Linked DNA regions of Homo sapiens. The protein of the gene in region 2 interacts with the protein of the main gene of each other region in a biochemical or structural test. Each region holds a gene or a part of one and is shown on either strand. Other genes may lie near its edges. The genes, in order: COX17, CHCHD4 and CIAPIN1.

Region 1 (3,754 bases), about 110 Mb from region 2:
TACTTTCTTCTTACAATAAATTATAAATACTTTTTCCACATATCAAAGTTCGTCAAAGAACTCCCAAAATTAATCTTCTTCATTCTTCAGGAATTATTTATTCACACAGCAGACCACCTACAGAAAAATATTTATTTTAGAAAGTCAGATTTCAAACATCATGCCAGATCTATGGAGTCAGGGAATTAAGACCACTAGAAATGAATGCCTCAGATGAGTAATTAACTAATTGCCAGAATTATTCCAAATCAGTCATAAAATTCAAAATCAACATTTTAAAATTCTAGGTTTGCCTAACTAAAAACATTAGTGAAATTATTCATGATATTATTTACTCTTTAAAAGTTTTTGAAGTAAAAACTCTCTCTGCGTGTATATATATATAATACATATGTGTGTGTTTGAGAAATACATATTTCTCAAAAATATCCTCCAAAAAAGGCTAAAGCAGTTATTTTTACAGATATTCAAGAAACAAGACCTGCAAACCCCTCTTTGCTGATTCAAGTATGCCTGGCGAAGATCCACAAAGTAGAAGGCAGAAGGTCAGCTCAGTACCCAAGGCACTTCCTGTGGAAAGTTACTCACTTAATCCCAAAGGCAAGACAAGGGCAACCCTTTAATATTCATTTGGAAAAATCAAAAAGGGAGAGTAGCATAGATAGGGTTGCTGATCCAGTCAAGTCAATACCAGGCTTCTCACACCTCTCCCAGTGCCTATCCCAGAAGATTGAGAACAATGCTAGGAAGGTAATTAAATTGGGGTAGCTAACTCTTCAAGTCTAATGCAAATATTTCCTTCATTTAGCTGTTCACTTCATTTGGTTTAAATAAAGATAAACCACATCAAGATACAAACATCTAAACTCTTTTCTAAAAGACTCAAAGGAAGAATACATTTATAGAAAAGTTTGGAAAGATAACCAAAAACGAAGCCATTCAACCTTTCAATTATAGCAGCCCATAGCATTGTTACGACTTTTGCGACTGACTACATAACAAAAGGGGCTGTGTGGTGGAAGACCCTGGATTTAAACCTGTTTGATTATATCTCTGGATGTAAAGTCTTTGACTGGAGGGATAATCTTTCTCTCCTCAGTATTTTCCAGGGTCTTAATAAATATCTGCTGAATGAACAAATGTTTGAATGGCAGAAATTATTCTTTCTGGATTATCTTGGGATATTTTCATACATGATCAGTTTTGTGTGTGTGTGTGTGTGTGTGTGTGTGTGTGTGTACAATTCAGCATATTTTAAGCATCCAACTGTTAAGTTGTTAAACTTAATATTGAGTATCACCACTATTCAGTACTAGTCCTTTAATTTCTTTCAACGACTTTAGTCTCCAAAATAGGTTCTTTAGGCTTCTTCTGTCTCCTAAAGGCAGGAAGATAGTAGCCATCTATTTCCTCATATTTCTAATGAGGTTCTAGGTTCTTCTAATTACTCTTTTCAGTAAAAGCAGCAGTCATAAAATAGAAAAAAATTGTCTAAAATCACCACCATACCTATTTTTTCTTGAGTTTTCAAGTCTCTGCCTTTGCTACTACTAAATTTTCAGATACTTTATGCCTAGCATTATCCCTGCTATTCATCTTCAACTTAGGCCAGTGGTTGTTAAAGAGGAGTGCACTTGAAAATCATCTAGGAGTTTCTCAGTCAACAGGTGCAGACCAGGGCCCAAGTTGTGAATTCTGGAAAACATTCTTCAGATGATTCTGAGGTGCACCTCTGGGTAAGAACCACTGGGTGAATGTAGCCTACTTTCAGGTAAGGTATAAAAAATGTATAATAGATTTATTCCCAATCTACTGCACTTGAGGTACAATTAAGATCTACTTAGGAATAACATTAAAATCTACAAAGGTTTTTGAATTAAGGAACTTTCATGATCGTTGCCAGAGAGATCTAAGTTTGCAAAATATTTTTCCTTTGAAGCTATTCTCAGAAAAATGTGATCTAACAGTCTAAGAAATACCGATTTAGGTTAAGTTTATCTTATAGCAATGCAGACAGTTGTGTTGGATTTCACCCTCCAGCCAATGGCCTGTTTACTGGGTTATATGCAACTGTACATTTCCGCAACAAGTCTTTCTAATTAGCATTCATAATGAGGTTTTAAGATTGAAGATCAAGATTATGTGCAATCCTAAAAATGAATATGTTGGAATAAAATCTCATTAAGTACAAGGCGTGAAGTGTAAAGTGCCTGTGATTTAGAGAATATAAAAATCTTAACTCTAATCTAATTCTACCACTATCCACTCCTAACTTGAGCAAGTCTTTTTTGACTTCACTGTGCTTCCATTTCCCCATGGAGGTTGGGGAAATAGGACACCTGGGACCAATAAGGATCCAACACCCAGTCCTCTTCCCAAAATATTATTACACTGAAAATGAAAAACATGGCAGTTTGAATTCTCAGAAGGGTCCTATATGGATTCAGATTGTTCTTCTTGTAACCAGGATTCAATAATAATCAAGTCATATACTTAACAGACCTCAACTGAATGTCTGCTATCCACAACTCTAAAGGTATGAGCTATTCTGTTCTGGTTTTTACAGATGATTTATTTTACATTGAATCATCACAACTCTATGAAGTAGTTTGGGCATGTATTATTGTCTCCATTTTACGGATGAGGAAACCAAGGTACAGAAAGTTAAGGACCTGCCCAAGACCACACAATCAGTTAAGCAGTAGATTTTCTAAGTCTAAAGCTTTTGCATTTTCTTTTACACACAAATGAAGTACACAAACATAATTCTCACTCTCTGCCCTGATAACATAAAGAAAACTATGATATCATATGATACTTTTGAATATATGCCACTTATAACAATTGTACCACCTTTGTGGTTCAGATGAAGTCCAAGATAAGCTTTTGATATTCCTAAAATTAGCATTTCTTTTTATTTAATCACCCCTTTTTATCAAGGCAAGTTCAGCACAAGCCTACAGCTTACACAACTGACGAGGGAGTTAGATCATGAACAAGGAAACCATGTACAAATGTTAAGGTTGCATCTTTAAAAATAGTTAATAAAGTACACATACTTTTTAAGAACACACTCCCCTTCAAATTTACTTATTTTATAAAATAGTTCATTATGGGATTTCTTTAAATAACCATCTATTCTAAAAGCAACTTAAGTATATCATTTACACAACAGTAGATATACCATACTATATATAGAATCACAAAATGTATTATGGTTCTCTTTTTATAAATAATAAGTGAAATTCAGAGGAGTAATGTCTTGATGAAGCTAAATGTAGCTAAACTTAAAAACATGATAAACTAAACATCAGGAGAATAAAAACAAAGCCTCAGGACTTTCAGCCTAGACTGTTTTCCATTACACAGTAACTTCTTATCAGCTTGCGACAAGTTCCTTATCCCTCCTTTTTTATAGCTCAGTGAGGAAGACTGGCCATATGTGAAATTCCAAAGAGGCAGGAAAGAGGTGCAAGGGAAAGAAGCCAGGCTCTCTAGTACTAATATATTGGCATATGGCTTTGGCATTCTCTCTCAGCTGTTATTAAGTTAAAAGTGGTAGTGTGGTGTGGAAGTTAGGGTAGGGGCAAAAAGCAGAGGGAATCGGCATGGAGACTGAGGCTCCAGTTCTGATACTGCACAACCCACCTTGGGGGCCATTTCATAACTATAAGCTTTAATTTCCTTATTTATTCATTCATTTAACAATCCTCCATTAAGCACCTACTATGAGCCAGGCACTGTTATAGGTAGT
Region 2 (3,754 bases):
ATCCTAGAAGATCTGGGGTACTGGGACCCTCATCTGGAAGGGGATAGGAGGTGCCAAGCATTTAAGAAGACTTCTTCAGGTATGGCCAAAAGTGCCTGGCAGAGAGCCACAGTGCATGGCTCTGAGTGAGTGGCCACTGTGGGCGCAGAGGCCGGACCTGCAGAAACGTGGCCCTGTGAAAGCTGCGGGCATCTCTGATCACTTTATACTTTTTGTTTATATTTAGAAAAGTTCAGTCACAGCTATGCTGAGGGGAAAGCAAGGAAAAAGGTTTGGGCCCATGCTTGGGCTGAAGTAATTAAGGAAGAGGCTTCTGGAAGGAAGGGGGCAGTGACAACAAAAACCGAGCGACATCTCCAGTGAGAAGGACAGTTCAGGGGACAGAGGGAGGGCACTTTGGTGCCTTACGCCATGCCCACACTGCACAGGGTCTCTTACACTAGAACAGAGTAACAACAAAAAACCCTCAGCACACGGGGCCAGGACCCCCAACCCACTGGAGGCTTTTGCTCCCAGAGCTGGCCTCTGCCTCAATACCTTGCATGTCATCCAACAGAAGGCTGCTTTTCCCCTGTGGCTGACTGGGGAAAGCTTTTGGACCAGGCAGCCAGGACTTGTTAAAGTACCTAGTAACCTTGATTCTACTATTCTGGCCAGTTTCCAAAATACTCAAAAGCAATCTGTAAAAATGTTGAACGCTAAGCAGAATGAGCTGATGCAAATTTCGCAACTCAGCTCTGGCAGTTTTGTTTACCGAGATGGCAGCTCAGCGCAGCCCAACGGGGAGGCCCAGTCACAGGCACAGAAAGCAAAGGGTCCAAACGTGGTAAAGTATGAGGCCCTCCTGGGGTTTGCCATACATAGAGAGACCAGGCCTCACCCAAGAAAAGCTGAATCGAGCTCTCTGCCATGTCCATGTAGCTCACGGGCTTCACAGGTGACTGTGATACACAGCCAGGTTAGGAAACACCAGCCTAGCACAATCCCACTGAGAATTCCAGGTCCCTCCCACTGGGCCAGGTCCTCACATGTGCCTTCCTGGACATTTTCCCTTGCAGCACAGTTCACACTGGATCGAAAGTAGAACAGTAACAGCTGTATCTTTTACACATTTTTGTCCCATGCAATGTGTTTTATTACATCTGTGAGTTCACTGGTGGGTATTACTTTATCTCCATTTTACAGAGACCACAGGATCTGAGAAACAGACCAAAAGACATGCAGTAAATGAAGGCAGAACAGGAACAGGAACTCTGGTCTGAAAGATCTGGAGTATGTCCCCTACAAACTGTCCATTGTATGCCTGTCCTAGAGGGCCTTTGCTTTCTGGAACTTTTAAAAGTCGATTCAAGGACTGATGCAAGGACAAGGCTTACCTATTCCTAACAGACCTAACTGTGAAAGAAAGGACTGGTCAGACTAGTCGTAAGATGCCAACTAGTGGGACAATCAGCTAGACTAGTAGTTCTCATGACATTTGTCAGCAATTTCTCTAGAGAAATAAAATTTAAAAGTGCTTGTGTTTTTATTTCTAAGATAAGCTTTAAAAGCAGTTGAATATGCATGTTCTGAAGGAGGTGGAAAACTACCTTAAACCCTCTGGTGCACAGTGGCTTCAATATTTCAATATCACAGAGAGTCTGAGAACTGGAGTTCAAATCTGGGCTTAAGCACTTCCCACTGTATGAGCTCAGGTACCATCTGGGCCTCAGAAACCAGGCCTTACCACCAGCTCCACCTACCTACCTCACGTGGTTGGGGAGGTGAAATGAGTTTCTGCTGTCAGCTGGAATCCCACTTGACAGCAATTTTTAAAGGGCATCAAGGATAGCATGGCCAGGAAAAGAGACAATCACAGGCTCAGAGATGTCAATAATGTTTTGGAAATGGGAGAGCTGATGGTCGAGTGCTCTCTGACTTAACCAGTGAAGAAAGCTGAACTCAAAGTGCACAAGGAGGAGGTCATCCAGAATCAACTCAGTCCCCACCCCAGAACCTTGGTCAGAGTGGGGAACTGGAGGCCCGAGGGGTTACTCTGAGTGCAGGACTTCAGGGTGGGGCTGAGAACAGAACTGAGTGAGCAGTCAGATACAAAGACACCTTCCACCCCCAGCTGTTTAGTTTTACTCTCGGTAGAGCCACCCCAACCCGTCTTTCTCTCACATCTCCAACAGCAAATTGGAATGGCTCGATCTTCAAATACATCCAGAAAGAGCTGCATCCCTCACCTCTTCGACCCCATCTCCCACCATCACTCCCTGCACTCCAGCCACGCTGGCCTCTGCTTTTACTTGAATGTGCTGAGCACATGCCTACCTCTGGCCTTTGCACAGGGTGTTCTGTCCTCCAGGAGCACCTTCCCTTCCCTCAGGTACCCTCACAGCGATTTCTCCCTGCTTTCACCTCCTGCTCAGATGCCACCGTCCCTGACCACTGCCCATCTCCCTTATCCCGCTTTATCTTTCTCCAAAGTGCTTTTCGTCACCCAACATACTATGTATGTTTACCACTTGATGCCCCCACTGGAATGTCAGCTCCTCAGAGGCAGTGATTTTTGTCTATTCTGTTCATTGCAGTATCCTGAGAGCCCAGAATAGTACCAAGGACAAAGTGGGTGTTCAATATTTGTTGAAAAAAATGAATGGAGAAACAACTCTGGATTAGGGCTTGAAGACCCAAGTGTAAGAATTAAAGAGGAGAGAAACACGAAGGGTGGCTTTTCAGTCAACAGGGACAGGTTTATTTTAAACAAACCTGAGAGGGGCTGCTGGCTGAGTTAGGTCAGAGCCACACTCTCTTACAGACTAAGAGTTTTTAAGGATTCAGGGTGGGAGAGCTTATCAGTGGCTTGGACTGCTTCTGTGTCTCTTTGTTGTGCTTATCTGGGAGGCAGACTGGTGTGTCTGTTTCCATACATCTTTCTGCAGCTGCAGGCATATCCCCCCAAGACTGCTTTTAGCTTCCCTATCTTAGTACACCTGAAGGGAAAGGAATGTGCTTATTAAGGCCCACAGTTTTACTGGGGCCCATTGTATGAGGGTGAAGTTTGGCAGTCACCCAAGAGACTTTCCCCCCACCTCCCTCTGTGTCCCAGCTGTCTTGTCTGTGTTTTACTGTCTGCTCTTTCTGGCTGCTTGTAGTTAGAAGAGAAGTGACTTCCTTGAAATGCATGAGGCTAGAAAGGGAGCTGGAACTTAATGTGCCAGTGTTTGTCCGAGATGACGCTACTCCTGCTCTGTCACCCAGTCCCAGCAGAAAGCAGGAAGACAGAATGGTTATCACCATTAAGTGAGTGAGACCAAAAAATCCCTTGGATGAGTAGTTTGATTTCCCCCATGAAAGGGGAGGATCTTTATACACCAGAATCTCTCAGCTCATCCACCCCAGAAGGAATGCCCCTGTGTCCTGCAGAGGAAGCAGTTTATTGTCTCCCATGGATGCTGACTCCCCAGGGTCATGTTTGAGAATGGCAACCTGCACTAAGGACTTATTTTCTTTCGTTTTTGGCTAAGTTGATTCAATACACCTGTGATACAATTCCAACCACTACTTTCTGAAGCTCAACCCAAGAAAGAGATCTAAAGCCAGAGGGAGTGGTGCCTGTGGTGTATTTTGAGTGAGGTAAGGGGTTTCTAAGAGTTTGATAAATCTGACTGCTAAGGACTTTCATGTTTAGAATCTAACCCCTTTGAAAGATACAACTCCCCCATACAGAATCAAGTGTCTGTGAAGAATACACAAATGGCTTTCAGAC
Region 3 (3,754 bases), on a different chromosome or scaffold from region 2:
GAGGTCTTCTGAGGAGAAACGTTAATTCTGGGACCTGGAAGGACCTCATTAATTAAACTGTGTGACTCAGTCCTGTAAAATTAGGAGGCCTCGGTATCTTCTGGTGCAGAAGAAGGAGCTGAACTAGATAATACCTATGTATTATTTCAGTTTTGGATCCTAATATGCCCATGATAATAGTACATTAAGTATTCTTCTTTGTGGAAATGGCAGAAATCAAAGGACTAATCCTCTAAAAATATCACCATCTCATTTATTGCTGGCTCAATTTCTAACATGTCCCTCTAAGCCCATTCAAACAGAAGAATGTCCCTAGGCCAGCCTTACCTGAAGGAGAAGACTTCTTGGTGATGGAAAGCTTAAGCTGCCTAGAAGAACCCACTTCAAAGTTTGGTTTTTTGCCTGTGATCTGAACAAACAGCAGGTTGTCACTTTCATGACCAAGGTGTTCTCGAACAGACTGTACTTCCTCAGGGGTTAGGGGCTCCCGCTGCAGCTAGAATTCAAGACATCAAAAGGATTAGTTCACCCTCCTCTGTAAAATGGTTTACTATGTCTACCTACACAGGAGTCAAAGACTCATTTCTGTGCATTAAGGATGTAACAGTGGATGGTAACAGATAACACTTTATGCCTCACATTCAGTTTCTCACTGATCAGAACCCTAGAGTATAACCTTTGTCTGCATGTTTACTTGGAGCCTACCCCTTGGAAAATGTAAAAGTACTTAAAAAACATTAGGGATGAGGCATATACTAGTTATTTGGGATGTAATACAATTATGAAAATGAACCAGATGTGGTCCTACTGTGTAACAGGAAAGAATGCCCACAATGAAGACAGCAGAAATTTATATCCCAAAAGAAAAAGGGGGAGGAAAATCCTTTCTATGTTCCTTGGGATAAAGTAGCAGAGAGTAAAGGTAGAAAAAAAGGGTCAGGGTGCCACCTCTATGTCCAATAATTATAGACTGGTTACATAAATCACAGTCCATCTATTGTATGGAATACTATTACATCATTAATATGAATGAAGGGAAATACACTGAAGTAGGTAAGTGTCTATGATATCTAAGGGTGGGAAAAAAGGTGATTGAACAATGTATACTTATGATCTTATTTACATTTTTAAAAAAGTATGTGCATGTAGATGCTTGTAAATACATAGGAAAAGGTCTGAACGGACATACAAAAAGGCATTGGTGGCTTCCTCTGGGGAGGGAAGTGTGAGCAAGAAGTGGGATGTCACTTTATATTCTGTATGCTTTGGTGTAAAGTGAATTTTTATGAGGAGTCTGATATAGTTTGGATATGTGTCCCCTCTAAATCTCATGTTGAACTGTAATCCCCAATGTTGGAGGTGGGGCCTGGTGAGAGGTGACTGGATCATGGGGGCAGATTTCTCATGAATGGTTTAGCACCATCTGAATTCTCATGAGATGTGGTGGTTGTAAAGTATGGCACCTTCCCCACCCCGACTCTTCCTCTCTTTCTTGATCCTGCTTTTGCCATGTGATGTGCCTGCTCCTGCTTCACCTTCTGCCACGAGTAAAAGTTCATTGAGGCCTCCCTAGAAGCCAAGCAGTTGCAGGCCCGTGCTTCCTGTACAGTCTGCAGAACAGTGAGCCAATTAAACCTCTTGTCTTTATAAATTATTCAGTCTTAGGTATTCCTTTATAGGAACAGAAGAATGGCCTAATACACATTCCTTATTTTAAAATCAAGCACAGAAAACCTTAAGCTAAAAGGAAAAATAAGAAAGGGTTGGCATAAAGAATCTAAGGCCTGGCATAAAGAATCTAAGGCCTGGCTCACGCCTGTAATACCAGCACTTTGGAAGGCCAAGGTGGGTAGATCACCTGAGGTCAGGAGTTAGAGAACGGCCTGGCCAACATAGCGAAACCCCATCTGTACTAAAAATACAAAAAATTAGCCAGGTGTGGTGGCGCACGCCTGTAATCCCAGCTACTCGGGAGGCTCAGGCAGGAGAATTGCTTGAACCCAGGAGGCGGATGATGCAGTAAGCAGAGATCGTGTCACTGCACTCCAGCCTGGGCAACAGAGCGAGACTGTCTCCAAAAACAAGAAAAAAAATTAAAAAACAAAGAATTTAAGGCCCTACATTATGTAAGAAATAACAGGCACAACAGCTATCATGCTGTAACATTTACCTCTCCCACATCCAAGAAAATTTTAAGATCAAAGAGTGTAGAAATATAAATACTTCTGCTTAATTTAAACATTTCCACTGAATTGTCAGAAAAGGAACTTTGCCCTCTAACCTATTCCAGCCTCCCACCAAAAATGTGAGGCTGAACTAGATGGCAGTGTTCACCCAGGCCTAGGATTCGGGTCTACTGAGAGGTGGGTGTTGGAAGCAGCAGAGCTGCTGCTCATGCCCCTCAGCTGTCACCACCACTAAACTAGTACCAAGGAGACAAGAACAAGCCCCAGCCCACATGGGCCAAGCTGAGTCTCTTTGAAGTTGGTTATTCTCAAAAGTTTTTTTTTGTTTTGTTTTGTTTTTTTTGAGACAGAGTCTCGCTCTGTCGCCCAGGCTGGAGGGCAGTGGCGTGATCTCGGCTCACTGCAAGCTCCGCCTCTCAGGTTGACGCCATTCTCCTGCCTCAGCCTCCTGAGTGGCTGGGACTACAGGCGTCTGCCACCAGGCCCGACTAATTTTTTTGTATTTTTAGTAGAGACGGGGTTTCACTGTGTTAGCCAGGATGGTCTCGATCTCCTGAGCTCGTGATCCACCCACCTCGGCCTCCCAAAGTGCTGGGATTACAGACGTGAGCCACCACACCCGGCCGATTCTCCCAAGTTTTGTCCTTTGAAGCATCATGTATCTTACATGCACAGCATTTCTTGTTTCCTAGTTCTAAGCAATACTGATTACCTCACCTGCAGGGCAGCAAAGAAAGTTGTCTACAAACGTACCTCTTTCACTTCCACAAGACCAGAAAGAGTCAGGGCTGAACACAGCTTAGATGCTGTCTTCACTTTGCTATTGTTATCTGCCAAAAGGAAAATCCCAATTAATAGCTTTATAGTTCAAAGTAGGAAAAATAATAAAGGCTCAATCCTATATGGGTTCGCAGGCATTCAAACAATAATAACCAGGTGGGCGTGGTGGCTCATGTCTGTAATCCCAGCACTTTGGGAGGCTGAGGTGGACAGATCACTTGGGGCCAGGAGTTCAAGACCAATCTGGGGCCAACATAGCAAAATCCCGTCTCTACTAAAAATACACACAAAAAAAATAGCCAGGCGTGGTGGCACACGCCTGTAATCCCACCTACTTGGGAAGCTAAGGCACGAGAATCGCTTGAACCTGGGAGGCGGAGGTTGCAGTGAGCCGAGATTGCACCACTGCACTCTTGCCTGCACAACAGAGTGAGACTTGATCTCAAAGAAAAAACAAAAAAAAAATAATAACCTATTCTGTTTAATGTACAGATGGTCCTTGACTTAATGATGGTTCTACCTATAATTTTTCAACTTTTATGATAGTATGAAAGTAATACTCATTCAGTAGAAACTGTATACTTCAGTTTTCAGTAAATTACATGAGATACTAAGCACTTTATTATAAACAGGCTTTGTGTTAGATGATTCTGCCCAACTGTAGGCTAACGCAAGTGTCCTAAGCGTGTTTAAGGTAGGCTAGGCTAACCTAAGCAATTGTGTTTAGTAGGTTAGATGAATTACATGCATTTTCATCTTAATAGTATTTATCAGGATGTAACTCCATT

What was found.
Region 1: the proteins of CHCHD4 (region 2) and COX17 form a complex in vitro, tested with the Homo sapiens proteins (one study listed by IntAct).
Region 3: the proteins of CHCHD4 (region 2) and CIAPIN1 form a complex in vitro, tested with the Homo sapiens proteins (one study listed by BioGRID).

Annotation. Positions count from the first base shown.
Region 1 is NC_000003.12:119,669,549-119,673,302, forward strand, and holds part of COX17 (cytochrome c oxidase copper chaperone), read right to left. Parts: intron 118-3,754; 3' UTR 1-117.
Region 2 is NC_000003.12:14,118,117-14,121,870, forward strand, and holds part of CHCHD4 (mitochondrial intermembrane space import and assembly protein 40), read right to left. Parts: intron 1-3,754.
Region 3 is NC_000016.10:57,433,717-57,437,470, forward strand, and holds part of CIAPIN1 (anamorsin), read right to left. Parts: intron 3,017-3,754; coding exon 2,940-3,016; intron 497-2,939; coding exon 328-496; intron 1-327. UniProt on the Homo sapiens protein: Component of the cytosolic iron-sulfur (Fe-S) protein assembly (CIA) machinery required for the maturation of extramitochondrial Fe-S proteins.